7 linked regions of the Homo sapiens genome follow. The protein of the gene in region 4 purifies or fractionates together with the protein of the main gene of each other region. This does not show direct contact. Each region holds a gene or a part of one and is shown on either strand. Other genes may lie near its edges. The genes, in order: FARP1, SDC4, GPC4, FGF1, GSE1, GPC6 and PLCD3.

The links.
Region 1: the proteins of FGF1 (region 4) and FARP1 purify together in Homo sapiens (affinity purification with mass spectrometry; one large-scale study listed by BioGRID and IntAct). This does not show direct contact.
Region 2: the proteins of FGF1 (region 4) and SDC4 purify together in Homo sapiens (affinity purification with mass spectrometry; 3 studies listed by BioGRID and IntAct, with this or other methods). This does not show direct contact.
Region 3: the proteins of FGF1 (region 4) and GPC4 purify together in Homo sapiens (affinity purification with mass spectrometry; one large-scale study listed by BioGRID and IntAct). This does not show direct contact.
Region 5: the proteins of FGF1 (region 4) and GSE1 purify together in Homo sapiens (affinity purification with mass spectrometry; 3 studies listed by BioGRID and IntAct, with this or other methods). This does not show direct contact.
Region 6: the proteins of FGF1 (region 4) and GPC6 purify together in Homo sapiens (affinity purification with mass spectrometry, with the first as the bait; one large-scale study listed by BioGRID). This does not show direct contact.
Region 7: the proteins of FGF1 (region 4) and PLCD3 purify together in Homo sapiens (affinity purification with mass spectrometry; one large-scale study listed by BioGRID and IntAct). This does not show direct contact.

What each region holds. Positions count from the first base shown.
Region 1 is NC_000013.11:98,384,094-98,387,593, reverse strand, and holds part of FARP1 (FERM, ARHGEF and pleckstrin domain-containing protein 1), read right to left. Parts: intron 2,865-3,500; coding exon 2,750-2,864; intron 1,928-2,749; coding exon 1,780-1,927; intron 1-1,779. UniProt on the Homo sapiens protein: Functions as a guanine nucleotide exchange factor for RAC1. May play a role in semaphorin signaling.
Region 2 is NC_000020.11:45,331,425-45,334,924, forward strand, and holds part of SDC4 (syndecan-4 precursor), read right to left. Parts: intron 1,646-3,500; coding exon 1,599-1,645; intron 1-1,598. UniProt on the Homo sapiens protein: Cell surface proteoglycan which regulates exosome biogenesis in concert with SDCBP and PDCD6IP.
Region 3 is NC_000023.11:133,303,990-133,307,489, forward strand, and holds part of GPC4 (glypican-4 precursor), read right to left. Parts: intron 2,166-3,500; coding exon 2,035-2,165; intron 1,930-2,034; coding exon 1,783-1,929; intron 873-1,782; coding exon 736-872; intron 1-735. UniProt on the Homo sapiens protein: Cell surface proteoglycan that bears heparan sulfate. May be involved in the development of kidney tubules and of the central nervous system.
Region 4 is NC_000005.10:142,602,591-142,606,090, forward strand, and holds part of FGF1 (fibroblast growth factor 1 isoform 1 precursor), read right to left. Parts: intron 1-3,500. UniProt on the Homo sapiens protein: Plays an important role in the regulation of cell survival, cell division, angiogenesis, cell differentiation and cell migration. Functions as a potent mitogen in vitro. Acts as a ligand for FGFR1 and integrins.
Region 5 is NC_000016.10:85,672,322-85,674,510, reverse strand, and holds part of GSE1 (genetic suppressor element 1), read right to left. Parts: intron 2,107-2,189; coding exon 1,972-2,106; 3' UTR 1-1,971.
Region 6 is NC_000013.11:93,233,307-93,236,806, reverse strand, and holds part of GPC6 (glypican-6 precursor), read right to left. Parts: intron 1-3,500. UniProt on the Homo sapiens protein: Cell surface proteoglycan that bears heparan sulfate. Putative cell surface coreceptor for growth factors, extracellular matrix proteins, proteases and anti-proteases. Enhances migration and invasion of cancer cells through WNT5A signaling.
Region 7 is NC_000017.11:45,119,016-45,122,515, forward strand, and holds part of PLCD3 (1-phosphatidylinositol 4,5-bisphosphate phosphodiesterase delta-3), read right to left. Parts: intron 2,358-3,500; coding exon 2,196-2,357; intron 2,116-2,195; coding exon 1,887-2,115; intron 1,440-1,886; coding exon 1,310-1,439; intron 29-1,309; coding exon 1-28. UniProt on the Homo sapiens protein: Hydrolyzes the phosphatidylinositol 4,5-bisphosphate (PIP2) to generate 2 second messenger molecules diacylglycerol (DAG) and inositol 1,4,5-trisphosphate (IP3).

The sequences.
Region 1 (3,500 bases), on a different chromosome or scaffold from region 4:
ATTAGAATTCCTCTGGAGCCCACTGGAACACCAGGCCTGTTCATTTAACGTGGCAAGAATGAAGCAATAGGGCACTGGCAAGAAGGTGGGTTCCGAGACACAGGCTTTGCACGTGACTACATTACCCAGGTATTCCCAATACTTAGGGATTGTGTCAAACACAATCAAAGCACATTAATTCAATTGTGAGACACTTCTTTTCCTTCTTAATACTTTTTAGAAATGGTTCAGGATTGTGATTTGAAATTTAATGATAGTACTCAAAACTCCACTTGGCTTTATTGTTTTTCTTTTTGAGACAGTCTTGCTCTGTCACCCAGGCTGGAGGGCAGTCGTATGATCTTGGCTCACTGCAACCTCTGCTTCCCAAATTCAAGCGATTCTCCTGCCTCAGCCTTCCAAGTAGCTGGGATTACAGGTACACGCCATCATGCCCAGCTAATTTTTGTATTTTTAGTAGAGACGGGGTTTCACCATGTTGACCAGGCTAGTCTCGAACTCCTGACCTCAGGTGATCCACCCGTCTCAGCCTCCCAAAGTGTTGGGATTACAGGTGTGAGCGACCGCGCCCGGCCTATTGTTTCTCTTATCCGATACTCAGAGGCTATGCGTGCAGGTCAAAAACTGTCAAGAAAAAATCCGCCTTGAATACCACACTGCTCTCACAATGTCACTCCCTACTACCTGGCAGGAAGCCAACTTAACTCTTCTTGGGATGTGATTTGTAATAATTATGCTGTCATAAACTTCTGGTGCATGAATAGAGAATCACTGGAACTCTTTTGATAAAAGATAAGGGGGAAATATAAGCAAACCTGGAAGAGCTCAATAAAGGGTTTTAGGTCCTGAACATATTTACAACTTCCTAACTGGGTGAAATCTGATCCTATTTCATGAGAAAGGCGGGTGCTTTCTCTATATCCCTTTGAAACTAAAAGCACAGGTTACCCACTTGTGTTGAAAAGGAATGTACTGAACAGCCTTTTGGGGGTGATGAATACGTTCATTCTGTTGGTTTTGTGGGGAATTTTACAGGATATACATATATATAATAAAAACCTATCAAACTATGCACTTCAAGTGTGTGCACTTTATTGTACGTCAACAATACTTCAATAAGGCTACTAAGAGAGAAGCATTGATCAATGAAACAGTCCAATAGCAGAATGATCAATAGAGCACACATTTTAGAGTGCAGAGAATCATTATGTCTTTAAGTAGAATACAAGTAAGAATTCAAGTGCAGTATGTGTTTTGCTACAAAATTGCAAGAATGTGGCTTTTATGAATTTATAAAACTGCTGTATCTTAAAAGTGTGCCTAACACTCTTTAAGTATATCTGAAGTCCCGACCAAATAAGCTGGCTCAAGCCAAACTGTGTTTGAAAAAAAAAAAAAAAAAAAAAGGATCACATTACAGCAAAGTATCATCTGTAAGTGTGAAAAAGGTGTTTATTCGGGGACCTAAAATCTCGATTCCATTAGACTGTGTTCTAAGTGTAGGTCCATGGAGAGCTACATGTTTCTGTGATGCTACAAAGTCAATAAAACCAAACAAATCTGTAATGTGGATTCCCCAAACAGGGCAAAGGTAAGTGAAATAGAATCTGGGAGCTGAGGGCCTGGGAAACAGAAAGCCTGAGATGAGGTTAATTTTTCTTTGTTCGCCGAAAAATAACCATCAGAGGTCTTAGCCCACTGAATATGAATCAGAGTTGAAGGGCCAGCTCTTCTCTCTCTGTCACCAAGGGAACCAGGCCGTGTTCTCAAGGCTCTCACCTGAAACACTAGAATTCCCGTGTTGGCAACGGCCAGATTGATCTTCGTGCCTTCCCTGTCCTTGGCCGGGTGCAACCGGATTCCATACATCTCTAGCCGACGGGCAATCTCTAGGAGCTGGAAATCTGATTCTGCTGGTGTTTGTCCACTGACAAAACAAAAATTAAACAGAAAGGCCAGGAGATTTGAATTCCCTGTATCTATTAATTTGAGATTAAGAAGCTTCTCCTGGGAAATACAAAGGCATTTCATCACAAACACTGGGGCTACCCGATCAGATGACACCCAATCTCCCATTCACTGTAACCCAAAGTCTAGCAGCTAGGACAAAACCTCCACTGCTCATGGAACATAAAACCCCAAAAGTCTCCAAACTCAGCCAGTTTTTGTTTTTTTTGTTTTTTTTGGAATCTCAAAGAGTTTCCTTTAAGCTCATATAAAAGCAAAACACCACTGGGTTAAAACAAGATTTTAGTTGCTTTCAATAACCTAAACCTGCAAGCAAAGTTCAAGAGAACACTTTTTCACATGGCCGTCAGGCTCCAATGCTTCCTTAAAACAACAACCAAAAGTACCATGAGTCCTTTGAAAATATTAATCCAAACAAAAACAAAAATGCAGATGCTATGAAGGTTCTGGATTTTCACGATACTCTGACCTTGTCCCTAGGTGACCACGTCCCTTTCCCAATTTGTCATTAGCTTGATGACTGGATGGTCCTTTGCTCTTACTTTCTCTTTTGTTCCAAAGCATGGGCATCCTTAAACTCCAGGCTTCAGTGGGTGACCTGTGCTTCTGAGAGCCCAGGATGAATCACCACATCCCAATGAGCCTCTGTGATCTTCTTTCCTCACGCTTTGTGTTGTTCTCCACAATAGTTTGTGTGGGGGGTGGAGGGATGTACACCCATGTAGGTTGGAGGCAGAGAGAACCGGCTCAGAGGGAATATGAAGCCAAGAATGAGACTTACATGTGGTTATGGTGAAATTCCACGATTTTGTCCTCTAGTGCGTCTTGCTGAGGTATGTATTTATTTTTTGCTAAGTGCTCTCTGTCCAAGGCTTCATCAAAATCCCCAATCTCAGCTAAAAAGAAACAGAAAGAAAAACAGGTCACGTAGGAATGACACTTCCCAGTTTGTCAATATTCCCCAGTGAGCCAAACAGAAGCTAGCAGACAACATAAGGTGAGCCCAGTTGGTGGGGAACATCAGAAGGGCCAGATCTCAGAGACGGGATGCCAGGATACATTTATCAATTGTGGTGATGTGAGAAGACAGTTTTCTCCCCTCCTCATCTCTATCAGTCAGAAAGAAGCTTCAAGGTCAGGCACAGTAGCTCATGCCTGTAATCTCAGCACTTTGGGAGTCCAGGACGGGTGGATCACTTGAGGTCAGGAGTTCGAGATCAGCCTGGGCAACATGGCGAAACCTCGTCTCTACCAAAAATACAAAAATTGGCTGGGTACGGTGGCGGGCACCTGTAATCCCAGCGACCTGGGAGGCTGAGGCAGGAGAACTGCTTGAACCCGGGAGGTGGAGGTTGCAGTGAGCCAAGATCGTGCCACTGCACTCTAGCCTGGGCGACAGAGCAAGACTCCATGTTCCCCCCCGCCCCCCTACAAAAAAAAAAGCCTCAGAATCATCCATCTTCAGCCATACCTGCTCCCGGTTTTTCTTTTCTCCCCATCCGCCTGGGGAGGTTCTTGGCAGTAAATTCTAC
Region 2 (3,500 bases), on a different chromosome or scaffold from region 4:
ATGTCAGGTGTTTGAACCAGAGTGCCTACATCTTGAATAGGGGCTGGGTAAAATAAGGCTGAGACCTGCTGGGCCGCATTCCCAGTAAGTTAAGCATCCTACGTAACAGAATGAGATAGGAGGTCTGCACAAGATACAGGTCATAAAGACCTTGCTGATAAAACAGGTTGCAATAAAGAAGCTTGCCAAAAACCACCAAAAACAGGATGGCAATGAAACTGTTGGTCTCACTGCTCATTATATGCTAATTATACTACATTAGCATGCTAAGAGACACTCCCATCAGTGCCATGGCAATTTACAAATGCCCTGGCAAAGTCAGGAAGTTACTCTATATGGTCTAAAAAGGGGAGGAGCCCCTAGTTCTGGGAATTGCCCACCCCTTTGTTGGAAAACTCATGAATAATCTACCCCTTGCTTAACATATAATCAAGAAATAACCATAAAAATGGGCAACCAGCAGCCAATGCCACTGCTCTACCTATGGAGTAGCCATTCTTTTATTCCTTTACTTTCTTAATAAACTTGTTATTGCTTTGCAAAAATAAAAAAGATGTTTGCTGCAGTGTTATAATTTTAAAATGTTAACAAATTATAAGCCATTTTTCCGTCAATAAAGGGAATCAGGTAAACTATTACGCAGCCTATAAAAATGACAAGAGCATTAAATTATGCAGGGAAATACTCATGACCAGTCTAAGTGAAAAACGCAGTTCATAGAATTATATATATATACTTTTTTTTTTTTTTTTTGAGAGGGAGTCTCTGTCGCCCAGGCTGGGGTGCAATGGTGCAATCTCTGCCCACTGCAATCTCTGCCTCTCAGGTTCAAGCGATCCTCCTACCTCAGCCTCCCAATCAAGTAGCTGGGACTACAGGCGCACGCCACTGTGCCAGGCTAATTTTTTGTATTTTTAGTAGAGATAGGGTTTCACCATGTTGGCCAGGCTGGTCTCGAACTCCTGACCTCAGGTGATCTGCCCGTCTTAGCCTCCCAAAGTGCTGGGATTACAGGCATTAGCCACTGTGCCCGGCCTATATATATACTTTTCTATCAATGCTAGGAAATAGCTATAAATGTAGAGAAAAGGAGTTGGTGTTGACGGTGACTATCCCTGCAGGGAGGATGGCCTACCAGCAACCTACAAAATGAGCCTGGGGCCAGATTTGTTTGTTTGTTTGTTTGTTTTAACACAGTCTGGCTCTGTCACCCAGGCTGGAGTGCACTGGCACAATCTTGGCTCACTGCAACCTCTGCCTCCTGGACTTAAGCCATTCTCCCACCTCAGCCTCTCAAGTAGCTGGGACTACAGGCACATGCCACCACACCTGGCTAATTTTTGTATTTTATGTAGAGACAGGTTTCATCGTGTTGCCCAGGCTGGTCTTGAACTCCTGACCTCAAGCCTCCCAAAGTGCTGGGATTACAGGCCTGAGCCACCATGCCCACCCCAGGGCCAGATTTTTAAAAAGCCTTCCCGCATAGTGGGGTAAGACCCCTCACTTATTCTGCCTATGGGGGCTGTATTTTCTGCCTCTCCCAATAGGTCTGCTATAGAGGAGCAAAGTGGAAGAGGCAGAAGCATGTAGCTACTTACCAAGGGATGGACAACTTCAGGGCCGATCATGGAGTCTTCCAAGTCATCTGTAAGGTCAGAATAGCTGTGTGAGTGAGGTCCATTACCCCAGGAAAATGACCCCTTCAGCCAGGACTGGTGGGAGCTCCACCTTACAACCAGCTTCCAAATGCTCAATGTCCAGCAAGCGAGCTTCCCCACCCCTACTTCAGTCATCTCATCTGTAAAATGGGGCTCCTCAGACCCACCCCCTGGCTCTTTCACAGGAATGTGTGAGCTGGCAGCTGGGCAGAGGCTTCATCAGCTCTAAACCCTTGCTCTGCAAAGTGTGGATCCAAAAACCAATAGCAACACCTGAGAGCTGGTTAGAAATGTAGAATTTCAAGGCCAGGCGCGGTGGCTCACGCCTGTAATCCCAGCATTTTGGGAGGCCAAGGCGGGCAGATCACTTGAGGTCAGGAGATCGAGACCAGCCTGGCCAACATAGTGAAACCCCGTCTCTGCTGAAAATACAAAAATTATCCACGGGTGATGGCACGCGCCTGTAATCCCAGCTACTTGGGAGGCTGAGGCAGGAGAATCACTTGAACCCGGTTGGCAGAGGTTGCAGTGGGCCAAGATGGTACCACCGCACTCCAGCCTGGGCGACAGAACAAGACTCCGTCTCAAAAAAATAAATAAATAAATTCCCTCCATACGTATTCCTAAATACATTTTTCCCAATAATGGGCTCGTAACAATATATCATTAACATCTTTCCATTACAATGCTTAAAGAGTTACATTATTATTTTAATTACTTCTATTCAATGAATTTCATTTATTTTCAATAGTCTCTTACTGTTGAATGTTTAAAATGTTCTTATCTAAAAATATTGTCATGATCAGAAAACATTAAAGCTAATATTTCACTTATTTAAAAAGAGTAAAAATAATTCATTGGTTAAAAAAAAAAGAAGAAGAAATGTAGAATTTCAGGGCTGACTGAATCAAAATCTACTTTTTTTTTTTTGAGACAGAGTCTCTCTCTGTCGCCTGGGCTGGAGTACCGTGGTGCCATCTCGGCTCACTGCAACCTCTGCCTCCTGGGTTCAAGCGATTCTCCTGCCTCAGCCCCCCGAGTAGCTGGGACTACAGGGGTGCACCATGACACCCAGCTGATTTTTGTATTTTTAGTAGAGACGGGGTTTCACCATGTTGGTTGGCCAGGATGGTCTCGATCTCTTGACCTTGTGATCCGCCTGCCTTGGCCTCCCACAGTGCTTCAATTACAGGTGTAAGCCACCGCGCCCGGCCAAAATCTACATTTTAACAAGATCCCCAGGGAATTAACTTTTGAGAAAGAAAACTCTAACTGCAATATTAAAACATTTCCTGGGCGACTATGTGAGATGATGGATATATTACTTAACTCCACTGTAGTAACATTTTTACTATCTATATGTATCCCATAATATCATGTTGTATGCACATAATGAAATTTATTTTTTTATTTTTATTTTTTTTCAAGACAGAGTCTTGCTCTGTCACCAGGCTGGAGTGCAATGGCGTGATCTCAGCTCACTGCAACCTCTGCCTCCCGGGTTCAAGCAATTCTCCTGCCTCAGCCTCCCAAGTAGCTGGGATTACAGGCACTCGACACCACACCTGGCTAATTTTTGTATTTTTAGTAGAGACGGGGTTTCACCATGTTGGCCAGGCTGGTCTCAAACTCCTGACCTCGTGATCTGCCTGCCTTGGCCTCCCAAAGTGCTGGGATTACAGGCATGAGCCACCGTGCCCGGCCATAAAATTTATTTTTTTTTTAAACCAAACACACACGTACTGAGTGCTTGGTAGGTGCCAAAAGCTTTAAGTCAGTTCAGTCCCCACAACACTGATGTACTATCTTTATTATTCCCATTTTACAGATTAGAAAACTGAA
Region 3 (3,500 bases), on a different chromosome or scaffold from region 4:
GAAGTAAAGAAGTATGGGTACTGGCTGGGTGCGGTGGCTCACACCTGTAATCCCAGCACTTTGGGAGGCTGAGGCAGGCGGATCACAAGGTCAGGAGATCAAGACCATCCTGGCTAACATGGTGAAACCCTGTCACTACTAAAAATACAAAAAAAAAAAAATTAGCCAGGCATGGTGGCAGGCACCTGTAGTCCTAGCTACTCAGGAGACTGAGGCAGGAGAATCACTTGAACCCGGGAGGTGGAGGTTGCAGTGAGCCGAGATTGTGCCACTACACTCCAGCTTGGGCAAAAGAGCGAGACTCCATCTCAAACAAGCAAACAAAAAAAAGTATGGGTACTTCTCTAAGTTACTGAGCGTCTAAGGGAGGGACACAGGGCATCAAGTCAGAGAATGGAACCTTTGAGAACTGGTTATTTATGAGGCTAGGCCATTGGACAAAGAGCCACAGGCATTAAATATTTTAAAAATAATGACACTATTGGAACAGCCCTAATACGAGACTATAACTACTGTCAAACTTTTGACTCAGCACTCTTTGTAAGTAACTGGGTGCCTTCTCAACACTCCTAGTGCAAAGCCTGTTCCTAAGAACACCTAGAAGCCTTCCATGTTGTTGCTACCTACTGTGAATTGCTTCCTGATGCCTCGGTTGACAATTGAGAGAACCCTCTCTGAAGGTCACCCAGGCATCTAGGAAGGGAGAAACTTCAAATTCATTCAACAGACACTAACCTGCTTTTGCCTTTCCCATTCCAACAGTCATCCTCATTGCCGTTTCCTGCAGCCATCCTCTCATCGTTGCAAACGTTGCTCGGAAGGGAGGACCAGAATTTCTTGGCCTGTTTCAGTTTCTCCTTGACATCAGTAACCTAATTATGAAACAACAACAACAAAAAAAGATCATTGTAAGACAAGACAAAACTACCTACAAGTGTGCCTTCTGGCCATTTCCAAAGTATCTCCAGAGTGATATGCAATTCATTTTCAACTTTAATTAGAAGAGGAAGATGCAACTCCAATTTATATCTTAGAAGTACAAAACCACTCAAATAATAGTTGAAATGCAAGCTCCAAAGGAGTGGCCTAGACCCCTTGCCCACCTCATTGTAAGTACCATCTGAGGCCTACCAGTCTCCATGCCCTGTAGGCACAAAGATAACATGCAGTCTCTTCTCCTAAGGCTTTTAGAGTCAGGATCAAGCATGTATATTATGCACTCTGTGAAACATAGCTGCTATTGCTCTTTCTCTCCATCCCTGTCTCCTCAGGCTCCCTCTTCTGTGTTCCTACTACTGTAGGAATAGTTTCTTACATTTTTGTAGCATATTACTGTGGATAAAGCAATTTGCCTACAGTTACTCACTTTTCTCCCATCTCAGCTTTTACTAAACATCATTTTATGTTAATAAGCCTGGAACATCTACTTCTCCCTCTTTGCCTCCTTGTTGGTGCCTTTTGAGAACAAGGATCTGCCTTATTTCTCTGAGCTTCTCTATGCCTAGCACAGTGATGGGCACATAGTAGATGTTCAATAAATGCATGGTGAATCTAAAGAGAAATTTTGAGACAAGACTTATTGCATCATAACTCCTTGGCTACCCAAGAACTTTCTGGGCTAGAAAATGGGACAGGCAGATTGACTGACATCCACATCCTATTTGCTTGAAAAGTGACACCTGAAAGACCCACACTTGTTAGCCTTCCAGCTAAAAATTCATTTTGAGCAAGAGTTTTCAGTTCTTTGTCATTAAACACGGCCCTTCCTGCCAAAACGCTCACCAGTCGGTCCAAACTAGTGCCAGCTGCTGTGGTTGGGCGTTCCTCGGGGTGATGTGGTCTGAAGCGAGCACTGAAGGCACTTTCAGAGATGGAACGAGAAATTCGTCCAGCTGGGAGGGGCTTGGGGGGTCCACATCCCTGGAAAACCTGCATTAGAGTAAGTGTCGTCATGTTAGGGAAGTCACTCCCAAGGCGGGAGGCGGAGGCGGGGGAGGTCCCTAGCTCCCCTTTCCAGCATCCTGCCTTCATTACCTTCTGAGACACTTGAACACTATTATCCTGCATGTTCATAATAGCATCAGAAATCTTCACATCGATGGGATCCATGACCGATTCAATGTTGAAAGGACCCTCTAGCCTCTCTGCCACCATCAGCATAGCATCTAATATGAGGTTTGGGGAAGAACAATACAGCATAAAAAGTCAATCATTAGTTTGGCCTTGGGTAAATCAATCTGATTTTTTTTTCTGTCTGTTTCCTGCATGGGGGCAGGGGAAGTAAGGCATGGATCATAATGAATTCTTGTTTTTATGTCTATTTCCCTTACACCAAACTGCATTTAGTCACTATGTATCACTAGCTCTCTAAAGTGTGAAATGGCCAGATGAAGGCTTAGTTCTACAGCAAGGAAACCCAATCAGGAACTTTCCTCAATACTGATTATTCGTGTGTCAGCCACTGTCACTGTAAGGCTCTTAGTTAGCTCCCAGATGACAAACCTAAGGCTGGAGACAAAATAACATGCCAGCTCTCCCAGAGACTTCCCTAGGATCTTCTCGTTTCACATTCCATTTACAAGAGTCAAAAACATAAATCAGTTAAGATGCTGGCATATTAATTCTTTTCTTTTGTTTTTAAAAACAAAACCCCTCAGATCCTTGAGTGCACCGTTGGATAATACAAATGAAAGGGTTCCTAGGAATTCTAATGACTTTTCAAATACTAAAACTTTGAATAATCCAATTTTTGTATTAAGAAAAACTTCTCATTGCAAATACAATGGCTTCAATTTATCTTAAGGCATGTACCTCCTTTTTTTTGCAAGTGAGAAGATGACACAAGATACAGTACACAAAATTAGTGGGCTCACAGTATATATCTTCACCGATTATCCTGCTTTAGACTCTGGAGTAGCATGGCATTTTCCAGTAAGCACTGAATCGCTTCAATAAAATACATTGTCTTTGTTTTCTTGCCATATATGTTTCTTAGGATTATGAGGCTTAGTATTTTTGCCTGCTACCTGTTTTACAAAATTAGAAGAACTTGGAAATGAAAACCCCAAATGACAAAAAGGATGCTTCATTAACGACAAACAGTGAACTTTTAAACTTGTTTATCCCCCCTTTACACTCTAGTGCTTAGTGCATGGCAAGAAAGGAGTTAGACCCACATTATCTATCATCTTCAGGTAGTGCAAGGATGGTTACTTGAAAGAAGAGCTAGTTCCCGGAAGATTGTGTCCTACCCAAAGAACACAGCTGACAATTGCAGCCCCCAGCTGAGCTTCTATCTAAGCTTTCTAGTGGAAAGCAGCATAGGCATCAGCATATCAATGAAACCAAATCTAGTCATCAAGCTTTCACCTTCAACCTAGAACAAATGCTACACAACATTTTAATGCACGGGGTCATTTCTCTAAACTACAATTCCGATGTCACAAACCACAAATAGATTTCCATGAAATGCAATTTTTAAAACAGTAATAACAAATGAA
Region 4 (3,500 bases):
AAACAAGGAAACCCCTCCTAGACACCTTGTGTGTGTATCCTTTCTAGAGAGCTTGTGTGCGTATATTGCAAAAGACATACTATCTCATACTAATGGTAATGTACTGAGCACACAGTTCTGCACCTTGCTTTTTTTTTTGCTTAACAACTAATTGTAGATCTTTCTACATCAGGATGGAAAGAGTAAACTTCTTTCTTCTTGCTGATTGAATTGTGTTCCATTATGTAGCTATACCATAATTGTTTAACCATTTCTCTGTTAATATGCCTGTATTTTCTTATTTCTCTTTGCCTTCCTTATCTCCTGATTCACCCCCAGGATGATTCATAGTTTCATCACCTTTACCTAAGATGCAATTCTCCCTTCCTTGGAAGTCTTTGCTATAGAGACTCAGGACTTCCTCTAGCTTCCAGTGGCAACTGGAGTTTATTTAATTCACAGGAAGGAACTGGAAGCCACTGATGCACTTTCTCACGGGTCCTCCTAGGAATGGTTAGCTCTGAGAGTGTAGCCGTGAGGGAACAGGCCTATGGGCCTCCACTGTAAGCTGGGCCCTGCTCTCTCGAGCCTTCAGTCACACCACTTGCTCGCTCTTTCTGCTCCTATTAAACTTCAAACTTTCCCTGTTTTCCTGGGATCTTTGCACATGCTATAGCCTTCTCTCTGGGACATTCTTCCTCCAGATATTCACAAGGTCCTTCTCCTCCAGGCCTCAGCCTAAATATCCTAAAAGAGGCCCTCCCCAGAGTGTGTGACACTCTGCGCACGGGGTCCTTTCATCCCCACCCCATTCTCCCTGCCAATACCACCCTCCCCCACATCCTCTTCCTCCTCTGCCCCTTGTTTCTTTCATGGCACTTAGTACAACATGCAATGATTTTATTATCTAGGGAGCTACTGATCTATTTCTGCCTCCTCAGGAAAGTGTACACTCTGAGAGGAAGGGCAGAGATCTTGTCCTGTTCCCTCTGGGGTCCTCAGCACCTCCTACAGTGCCCTGCACACAGGGGGCAGTCTACATTATTTGGTGAATGAATGGTGTTGGGCTAATATTGGCAGAGATGATTCTCCTGGCCCATTATCAATAAGCTGTGCACTTTGAATTATGTCTCCAATAACTCTCTGAGGGGGGCAGTAAGATGGGACCACGTGGAGAGTTGTAAGGCTCAAGGCTGGGCTCTGAGCTGAGTGATCTTGGCTAGGCTGCATAGCCTCTTAGACACAGTCTCTTTTTCAGTAAAATGAGGGGTATTTGCGCTCAGTCTCCATAAAGTTATTTCTCAGTCTAACAGTCTATGGAGCAAGTAGATACATGGAATGCCAATAGAATATTCTTTGGCAATAAAAAGGAACAGAGTTCTGAGGCATGCCACAACACAGATGAGTCTGGAAACAGTGCTGAGTGGGAAGAAAGCATCACAAAGGACCATGTGTTTTATGTTTCCATTTAAATGAAATGTCCAGAATAGGCAAATCCATAAAGACAGCAAGTAGATTCAGGGTATCCAGGGCCAGGGTGGGTGGAGATGGGGGAATTATGGTTAAAAGGCATGGGGCTTCTTTTGGAAAATATTCTAAAATGGATTGTGGTGTTGGTTGCACAACTCTGTTAAGTTGTAAGAAAATCCATTGCATTGTACAACTTAAATAGGTGAATTGTATGGTATGTGTGTTATCTCAATAAAGCTGGTTTTTTTTTAAATGGTTATCAGACTTTATGGTTTTCAGAGAACCTTCACATATACTTTTGTGTCAATTTCTCAGCATAATCCTATATGTTTAAGAGAGATCAAAGGAAGGGGCTAACTTTTATTGATCACCTACAATGTGCCAGGCACCATGCTAGTTTCTATCTTGATATAAACAGTATAAAATTAAAGAGTGTGGGCTCCAGAACACAACTGCATGAACTCAAGTTCTGCTTGGCTGCCTATTAGCTGTGTGATCATCGGGCAAAGTATTTGCCTCTGTTTCCTTATCTATAGTGGGAGTTGTTGTAAGGGCTAATGCATGGAAAGTGGCCAGTACTCGTATGACTGTTTCCTCTGTGCTTTTGTGGCCTTTTCTCCTCGAAGTGTTCCCTGGAGGAAGGTGGTGCTTGCTCTGTCCTTTGGTGAAGAGCTGAAGTTTGGTGAGAGTGTGTTTTATGCAATGTTATACTTCTAAGAAGGGGAAAAATCATGACCAGACCCCAGGTCGAGTACTCCAAGTATCCTACTTTTTCCTGTCTTTCACACAATCTCTTGGGCTCCAATTATGGGAATGGATTGATCCAAATCCAGCGATACTCTCCTGCTTGGACCCTCTTGTGTTCAAGATCACACATGGACAAGATGGTGGGTGGCCATCCAGGATCCCATCTGTAGCCATGGAATGGAGTGAGGTTAGTTGCCTGGGACTCTTTTCAACCTATCGCCCATATATGTAGATATTTAGTCAAACACATTATAGGTGCGACAGAAACCCCAAAGGGGAGGTCTTTTTAGGTAATCAAGGAAGTTTTTTTTGTTTGTTTGTTTCTTTTTTCTTTCTTTTGAGATGGAGTCTCACTCTGTTGCCCAGGCTGGAGTGCTGTGGTGTGATCTCAGCTCACTGCAACCTCCACCTCCCAGTTCAAGCGATTCTCCTGTCTCAGCTTCCCAGGTAGCTGGGATTACAGGCACGCACCATCATGCCTGGCTAGTTTTTTTTTTTTTTTTTTTGTATTTTTAGTAGAGACAGGGTTTCATCATGTTGGCCAGGATGGTCTTAAACTCCTGACTTCAGGCGATCCACCCCCCTCGGCCTCCCAAAATGCCGGGATTACAGGCATGAGCCACCGTGCCCAGCCAATCAAAGAAGATTTTTAAAAAGCTTTTCATTTCCTATGCATTTCTGTTTTGCTGCCTTCAATAGCACCCACTTGTCTGGCCATGGGGCTGAATAGGGTTGGCTTTGCCATCTGTGGAGTTCCATCATGGCCATGAAGAGGCCTCATAGAGGTAAACAAGAGCCAGAGGCCTGCTTAGCACATGACTTCAGCCCTCAGCCATGAGTCCCGACACCAGGTTTGTTGTGCCGGTGAGAGTTCGTCTCAAAAGTTTCCTCTGTAAATATTATTTCTCCAGGATGTCCAAGTTTCATAGCTCATTTTCACTAGATTTCTTTCTGGCTAAGTTTCCTAAACATATATCCTTCTGCAAGTAGGGCTGGCAGGAAGGAGCAACACCCAGGCTGAGCGGCTTGTGTAGCTGGCTTGGTGTCCAGCTCTCTAGTGTGACTTCATTCCAGTTTTCCAGACCTACATCCTCTTGCAGCTGCTGCTGAGGACAGGCAAGGAAGGAGAGAGCATGAGAAAGTGGGGCCTTGGGAAGAGAGGGAGGGGCTGGCCACACAGCAGCAGCTTTTTCCTCGGGTAGCAGCTCAGGGTTGGGGGACAGAAAACCATTCAGTCAACACATATTCATCTACTAGGTGCTGGGACTTACGCTCAGCGCCAGCCATGGTCCCTGCACTTGGGG
Region 5 (2,189 bases), on a different chromosome or scaffold from region 4:
GTGAGATTTTGCCCTGATAGTTTGTAGCAGACTCCCTCTGAACACCTGTGGAACATGCTGACCTCCCAGTGTCTTTCGAGGGGAGGCCTGCAGCACAGCCCCTCGAGTTCTCTTCCAGCTGCTTCTGTGGAGAGGAAGGTGCTTGTTGACTGCTGATAATACTGGCGGTACATTCGTCTGAGTTTGCTAATAACTGGAAGATTCTTGGCAGACGTACAAAGCAAACTGTGCGGGGGCAGATAAAGCGACACGATGCCAGCTGCCAGCAAGCTGTTCTGCGCAGCAAGGGCTAGGGCCAAGGGCTCGGCTGCTGGTCACAGCAGTGAGCAGCCGGCACACAGGTCAGGCACCCTGCCCTCAGCTCAGGCCTCCACCCCCCAGACCAGTGACTGGCAGCCCTGGCCTCTGGTGAGGGCCCTTGGGAGCAAGAGAGGCCTTCTTGATCTAAACACTGCCTCCATAGGCAGTAACTAGGACAAGGAGGAAGACTCGCCCGTTGCTTTGCCTTGGTGTGATGAGCCCAGTTTCTGACCGTTCCTGTGCTTGTCACAGTAAGTTCAAAAAGGAGGGGTTCAGCTCAGACCTTGTGGCTTTTACAAAGCTTTGCGTTTAAACAAAGCCTCTGAAGTTCCTATTCTGTACCTGCTCTCAGACACCTTAGAATTATATCAATCACAGAAATCATTGACTTCCTGAAAGGTTTTTAAAAGCCCCCGCCCATGTGTGCACATGACTGTCACACATGGGTTCTACAGACTACCCCCTCCTCCCTTGATAGCAATGGGTAATATTTGCTATTAGCTTGTCCAGATGCTGGGGGCAGGCAGGGGGAGTGGAGGAGGTAAGCAGTAGCGCATGGCTTTCTACGGCAGCTTCTGGTGCAACTCAAACTAAAAATGAAGTGATCGCATAGGCGCCAGTGGTAAGCTCTTTTACTTTTCTTCTTCTTTAATTTTTAAAAACACTTCAATATTTTAATGTCCTGACCAGCAGCAGTACAAACACTAAAAGCAAGGTTTTTTTTTTTTTTTTGCCCAAAAAAAACCAAAACAACAAACAAAACCCCCAAACAGGAAAAACAAACAAAAATCCCCCAAACCACATATTAAAAATGGCAGGCTTTTTATAACAATAGTTAAAGTAATAAAAACATACAAAACTTTGTTTTTTTTTTAATATATATACACAGTACAAGGCTGAAGCACCTTTGACTTTTCTCTCAAAATTTACGTCTGTATGAAAACCCAACCCACTGTAGTAACAATCTGGTGGGTGTGAAGCTGTGTATACACAGAGCTCTGTACATGCTCCCCACGGAGTAATAAAAAGCTACCTTCAGTTTGTGAATTGGTTTTATCTTTAGGTAAGAAAGAGCTTTTCCAGGGAAAAGCCTTTGGGTTGCTTTGTGTGCTCCTAGGACTTGTTGCTTTGAAGAAAATTTTGCAGGAAAGTAAAATGAAACAAATAAGCCCTTTTTACTGACAATGCACCCAACCTTTTCAGCTGAAGCAAGTTTCACTCCTGGGGAGGAATGAGACTGGCCCCATCGCTGCGGCAAAAGCAAACTGGGCTTGAGGCATAGTAACATGGCAACACAAGAAAGAACAGAACCGGTTTGATCCACTCATATGCACAGGGGGCTGTTAATGATCAAGTTTTAGTGTTGCTAATGGAGCCTTCATGTTCAGATTAAGAAATAATGTGGGAGAGGAAGGGCGAAAACCACCTTTAAAAAGAAAAACTGTGGGCAATCCTACATTGGTTGCTCGCTGAATGACAACGGTGATTCAATTGCATTGACGTCAAGGTGAGTTCATTCATTTTTTCTGGAGCCTGGAATCCTTTGCTTCATGCATGGCACATTCTCATTTTGTAAGCTTCAAACCTCCCAGTGAAAAATATTAAATATTCAAGGTAATAAAATAGATAATATTTCTATACTATAGGTTCGGCCTAGTGCAAGGGAAACCGTCACCTGGGATATCCCTTCAGGTAGCCCCTAGGCCAGTGCATTGCAGGCAAGGCAAGGCACTTTCGTAAGTGGTCCAGTTCTGCCTGGAGCCGCTCCCTTTCTGAGACCATCTTCTGTTTCTGGCTCCTCAACTCCTGGAGAGAGGGAAATTTGTGTCAAAACCAACCCGTTTCCTCTGTAAGGACAAGCATGTAGAGTACAAACATGCTGGATGGAA
Region 6 (3,500 bases), on a different chromosome or scaffold from region 4:
AATAAGTGGGAGATAAGTATGCATACACAGGGGCACATAGAGTGGTATAATGCAGCAGTCCCCAACCTTTTTGGCACCAGGGAATGGTTTCATAAAAGACAGTTTTTCCATGGATTGGTGGGGATGGTTTGGATATGAAACTGTTTCACCTCAGACCATCAGGCATTAGATTCTCATAATGAGCACGCAACCTACATCCCTCGCATGCACAGTTCACGATAGATTTCATGCTCCTATGAAAAGCTAATGCCGCTGCTGATTCGACAGGAGGCAGAGCGCAGGCAGTGATGTTCACTTGCCTACTGTTACCTCCTGCTGTATGGCCCAGTCACTAACAGGCCACACACCATTACCAGTCCATGGCCTGGGGGTTGGGGATCCCTGGTATAATAGACACCGGAGACTAAGAAGTAGGGAGGGTGGGAAGAGGGTGAGGGATGAAAAATTTGCTCTTGGGTTCAATGAACACTATTTGGGTGACAGGTACGCTAAAAGCTCAGAATTCACTACTATATAATTCATCCATGTAACCAACAACCACTTGTACTCCTAAAGCTATTGAAATTTAAAAGAATAACAAAAAAAAGGATAATGAAGATTAGCTAAGCCATGCTATGATCATCAGCTCCCATCTGAGGGTCCAGCTGAAAGACCATATCCTTTGCCTTCCCTTCTAGGTACAGGCATAGGAGGCAATTCTAAAATGAGAAGGGTGGGCATCTCTGCTGGGGGACTGTTGAGAGTTGTCTGCCTCATCAAGGAAGAGACATGTGGGAAGAAATCATTTCTTTCTGTGCCTCTAGGCATTGTCATGAGGCCTTAGCTCCTGGAACTCTAGCCATCATCTTGTGTTTATTTGGAGGTGATCTGGTGGAACAAGGATCTGAGAGCCAAAAGACAGAGAGAACCTGGCACCCTGTTGATACTGCAAGCTTACAGCTTTCTCACTCCTGCAAGACTCTGCACTGGGACTTCTTGTTATGTGAAATAACGGCTTGCCCTGACTATGTAAGCCAGTTGAGTCAGGAATTTCTGTGACCTGCTGCCAAAAGTATCTTAACTGACACAGACTACTTGAGTTGAGAGTTTCAACAGCTCATCCTCTAAACTCTTTTATTGGAATTTCTAAGCAGCAGAGTGAAGTTTTTAATTTTTTAAAATTTTCCCTTTTAATCTTGTTTCTTCCTTCTCTCATGGCCTTATTCACCCCTTCTTCACTCCTCTCATCCTCCTCTGAGACCTTGGCAATCTCCTGCCTAAGCCTCTAAAATTTAAGTGTCTCCTAGCTGTCCTTCTTCCCTCCCCAGGGGCCTTTAATGATCTTTTCTCTAATCCATCCTGTGATACTGCTTGCCTAATCCAAAACAATACTTTCGTCATGTCACCTCTCTGCCAAGAACCTGAGATGATGACCTACTTTCTGTCATATAAAGCCTAGAATTTTCAAGGCCCTCCAAAAATCCAATCCCACCCTATCTATTCAATATCAGATTCCTTTCTGTGCTCTCCTCTGCACACCCTATTTTGCTCACATATTTAATTACTCCCTAACTGCCTCCTTCTTTCATGGCCCTTTGTCAAATGCTACCCATCCTTCAAGGCTCCAATTAAATTTTGCCTCCTCCTTTCAGCTTCAACCTCTCGTTGTTATTATAATCAGTAATGATATTTGGTACTTAGATTAAAACAATGCTATGTCAGTAGCTTAAGTACCAAATATCATTACTGATGGAAATTATGGCACAATTTGATTAATTCTCCATTAGGGTAAAAAATTTGAAGTTTTTTTTTCACTGACAGAGCAGAAAGTACTGTGACTTAAATTTCATAGTGAATTGTAGCTGATTACATGTATTTTGATAGTTCTACACTTTTGAGAGTTAGCAATTCATCTGATCCTATTTGAGAAATCTCTTTCTCTCAGTGACACTGATACTGTTAATAGTCTTCTGCTGGTTTAATGATATTGAGTTTTGTCTCCATTATGAAGCACACAAAAACTATGCTAAAGTATTTTTATTGCCATGGTAATTCAATTAACATTTCTGGGACACTTACTTCTCTCTTCTCTCTCTTCCTTCCCTCTCTCTCTCTTGCACTCTCTCTCTCTCTCTCTCTCACACACACACATACACAAACACACAACCCAGTCCTTATTCATTGTCAGTCACATAGTAGATGCTAAGTAAGTAACTTTGATCCATTTCACCTACTAAGTATTTCTTGAATCCTTCCTATTTCCATGGTCACCACTCTAGTCCTAGCTAGCCTCTCCTCCTTTTCCTGTATCTGTTTTTTCCCCTCAATCCTTTCTCTATAGAGCAACCAATGTAATATTTCAAAACTGTATCCAATCCTGATTAAAACACTTATTCAACAGCTTGTTAAGGGACTCAGGCTAAAGGCCAAAGTCACTGTAGTGAGTTTGAGGGATGTCAGGACTGATGGGGGTGGGGGAGGACGACATGACCCCCAGGTGGCAGTAGCACACAGTGAGCTTAATTTGGAAGACACTTTGGTTGCACGTGAAGGAAAGTCCCTCACAGCATGAGACCTTGCAGGGCTAACAAACGGGCCACCACCCAAAAGGGCAGAAGGTCAAGGAACTCCCAGGGGAGAAGGGCATTATGACCCAGGCAATGTCATCAGCAACAGGGTAGACAGCCTCAGGGCCAGAGAGCTGCTAAGGGCTGCAGCAGCTAGGAGTCTTTGATCACCCCAGGGTTGTCTTACATATGGCTAGCAGACAGGTACAGTTTTACAGAGTGCACAAGGCAAACATGCTCTAAATGGTTAAAAATCTGCTTCTTTGTGCTATATTTGAAACAACTGGATGTGTAGAAACTTGACTTTAGCACTACTGGGCTTTTTAACTAAAGGTTCAGGTCTGCTGTGAAAAAGGGAACAACTTACGGTCAAGAAGCAGGGGTTACCTTTGGATTCTTTCCGTCTATGTAAGTCATTAACCTGACCTTTGGGCCCCCTTCTCCAGTCTCCCACACCCCTCTCCCCACTCACTGACCAGTCTCCCCAGGGACTGGAACCCTCCTCATGTTTGCAGGGTATTCTCACCACACAGGAAATTTGTGCCCCTTCCACACTCCTGCTTCCTTACTGAAGGGCGCCCATGCTTCAGAACCCATTATTCTGCCTCTGATTTGATCAAATGCTCCTATAAAATGCTTTCACAGTGCCAGGTGTCCTTAGTGCTATGCATTTATCTCAGTTGGAATTAATTCATTGTGAATGGTGTCCTTAATTTCTGCTTCCCTGCTGGGATTCAAATTCCCTGGGGTTCTACCCCCAGAACCTGGTACAATGACTTACCCATAGTAGGTATACAATAAATACTCATTGCATGAAGAAAAAAATGCCTAGAAGAAAGAGAGAATGGGTTATTAAAATACCCAATAACCTGAATAATGTGAAAGTGTGAAACCAAATTTTGATTTTTTTTTTTTTGGCTACTAACTGGCACATTCATTTAAAACATATTTTTC
Region 7 (3,500 bases), on a different chromosome or scaffold from region 4:
GACGGTCGTTGTTGGAGTGGTCACACTCCTGGGGAGCAGCAGGAGAAGCTCAGAGGAGGCAGACACTCCAGGAAACCTGGCCCCTTTGACCCATCTGTCATCTACCACATCTGAGAAGGCAATGGTCCCCATTTCACAGGTGGAAAAACAGAGTAAGACTTGTGACTCTAGCTCACACAGCTGGTAAATTACAGGGCAGGATTTTTTGGTTTGTTTTTTAGGTTTGTTTGTTTGTTTGGTCTTGCTCTGTTACCCAGGCTGGAGCGCAGTGGCATGATCATAGCTCACTGCAGCTTCCAACGCGTGATCTCAAGTGATCCTCCCACCTCAGCCTTCCAAATAGCTGGACAGCTGGGACCACTGGTGTGCACCACTGCACCTGGCTAATTTTTGTATTTTTTGTAGAGATGGGGTCTTGCTGTGTTGCCCAAGCTGATCTCAAACTCCTGGCTTCAAGCAATCCTCCCGCCTAGGCCTCTCAAAGTGCTGGGATGACAGGGGTGAGCCACTGAGCCTGGCCGGCAGGGCTGGACTTAAAAGGTCTCTCTGGTTCAGTGCCTGCCCCTCTGCACCATGACCTACCCCAGGAATCAAGATGTGGAAGGAAAAATGGTGACCCTGGGCCAAGACAGGGCCCTTGGGCCCTCACACTCCCCTAGGTGGACACGTTACTATCCTGACATGCACATATTCACACCCAGCATCATTGAACAAGTCAATGAGAATTCATGGAGCATCCCTGTGAAGCTGTGGCCCAGGGGTCCAGCTGCCATGGGCTCTCCTGTCTTTCGGGGTCACAGGTGGGTCCCACCATCCACATGCACACAGAGGTCTGCCATGGGCTCCAGCTGGGCCATAGCTGCAGAGCCCACTCCTGTGTGCCCCTGTGCTCCCATGCATGAGGTGCCAACACGTGCCACAGTGGAGGGTCTGCGTGGAGAAGGGTGCACACGTGTATCCGTGCACATGCACACCTGTAGGCTGGCTCCTGCCTGTGCCCCCACGTGCAAAAGGTGCCTTGCAGACTCAGGGAAATGAAAACAGCTTTGCTGCTCACTTTGGAGGGGTAGGAACTGAGGATGAGGAAAGTTCTGGGCCCCGGCTCCCCACTCCCTTCCTGGCCCAGTGGCCTCAGGGGAGGCAAAAGGCTAACTAACCCCAGATGTTGCCTTTGTGCAGGGAAAGGCTGCTCGCTCCAAAAAAGCTGCAGGTGGAGAGGGCAGGGGAGCTGATGATTCAGATGGCTGGGGGCAGGCAGAGGTCAGAGTGATGGCAGAGCCAGGGGCTGGGGTTCAGGGCGGAAGCCCACCTTGAAGAGGAGGTAGGCGTACATGTCGTTCATGTCCACGTTGACCATTCTCAGCAGGCTCTTGATCTCCTTGAAGCTCATCTTGCTGTCCTGGTTGGAGTCAGCCCGGTGCAGATAGGAGTGGATCCAGGTGTGGGTGCTCAGGAAATAACAGCAACACGCCAGGCTGCCCCCAGCCCTCAGGTAACTGGCTGGTAAGTCACCCCCACCTGGGTCTGGGGGATCCCCAGTTTAGGGGCTGTACTTTCCCCTTGGCCTGTGCACTCCCCGAGCACGGTAGCAGTGTCTCCTCCGCAGGACTGGGGCTTACCAAAGACAGGAGGCCCTGTCTTCACCCTCAGAAGGCCTCAGGCCTCCCTGAAGGAGGCGCCGCGCCACCCCTCCTGGTGGGAGCTTGGGCCTAGCCAGGGCGCGTGTCCCCACCCTCAGTTTCGAAGACCAAGGGCTCCGACCCAGACCGTGCGCCCTCAGGACAGGGCCCTGCCTTCCCTGGGCGTGGGGGCTCTCCAAGGATGGGGCTCTCCAAGGTTAGGGCTCTCCAAGGATGGGGCCCTCCCTCCCAGCCCCGGCAGGATATTGGTCTAGCCGCTCGCGCTGGCTCATGGCGTCCAGGCGCGCGCGGAGCTTGGTCAGACCGCGCACCCAGCGCTGCGCTTCCTCAGCCGTGGGCGCCGCCAGGTCCAGGTTCTTGCGGCGGCCCTTGAAGGCGATGGTGAGGCAGCGCGCTGGCGCGAAGGCACCCCCGAAGCGCCGCAGGCCCTCGGACTGGTGGCCCTCGCGGACCGCCTCGATGTGCTGCACGAAGACTGAGAGGAGGGCCGGGTCAGGGCGGAGGACCGGGCCTGTCCCCACCTCCCTGTCCGCCCGGCGCTCCCCGGCCTCTCACAGATGTGCTGCGATGGCGCACGCGGGATGCGCCGCTGGAACCACACGCTCAGGCCGTCCTCCTGCAGCCGGTACAGCCGCTCCTTGTGCCACGTGCGCGAGCGGATCTTGCGGAGCCGGGAGCCCCGCAGCATGGCGCGCACGTCCTCGTCCTCCGTCAGGCCTGGCGGGGCGGGAGGACCCGGGGCGTCAGGCCGTACCTGCCCAGAGGCTCCCCTGCCCTCCCCCGCTAGGACCTGCTGCCCCATCCTCCAGCCTCTCCAAACCCAGGCCTTCATCCCACAGTAAGCTTCCCTCCCCCTCACAGGACTCCCCTCCTCCCCGATTGTAAGAAGCCTCCTGCACTGGGTTTGGCTTTAGGCTTTGGAGCCCTAAACGCCCCCCAACCCGTACCCCATCTCCCTCCTTCCTTCCAAGCAGCGGCCTCTGCAGTCCCTCAGTGTGGAACTGCCCTCGGACAATGCCTGGGACTCAGGCCTCACTAAAGGTTGCCCTTTCTGGCAGGGCGCGGTGGCTCACGCCTATAATCTCAGCACTTGGGAGGCCGAGGTGGGTGGATCACTTGAGGTCGGGAGTTCGAGACCAGCCTGGCCAACATGGTGCAACCCCACCTCTACTAAAAATACAAAATTAGCTGGGTGTGGTGGCACATGCCTGTAATCCCAGCTACTTAGGAGGCTGAGGTTGCCATGAGCCAAGATTGTGCCACTGCACTGCAGCCTAAGCGACAGAGTGAGACTGCGTCTTAACAAAAAAAAAAAAAAATTGCCTTTTCTGCCACTATCCCCCACCACATGGCTTCCAGCCTTCAAGTCCAGAATTTGCCACCAACAGCCTTTTTCCCTTGATGTGAAACCGTAGCCATCAGGAAGGTCTCACCATCTAACCTAGATCTCTCTTGCTGTAACCCAAGCACCTTGCCTCTGCTTTCCCAAAGACAAGGAGGACAGCAGAGGCCACCCTGGCTCCAGGGTCACAGGCCAAGGACTCCAGGATCAGCCCTGCCCAGCTGATCTCCAGGCATGGGAGGCTGAGGCATGAGAATCACTTGAATCCGGGAGGCGGAGGTTGCAGTGAGCCAAGATTGCGCCACTGCACTCCAGCTTGGGCAACAGAGTGAGACTCTGTCTCTAAAAAATAAATAAATAAAAGCATCTCCTGTGTGCAGGCCCTGCTCATGTACTAATAGACAAGGAAACTGAGGCTCAGGGAAGCTTAAGTAAGTTGTCAGAATTCCATACTGGTAGAAGCCACTTTGGGCTCTGGAGGTCGGGGTCCAGCGCCTCTGACCTTTGGCCCTGCACTG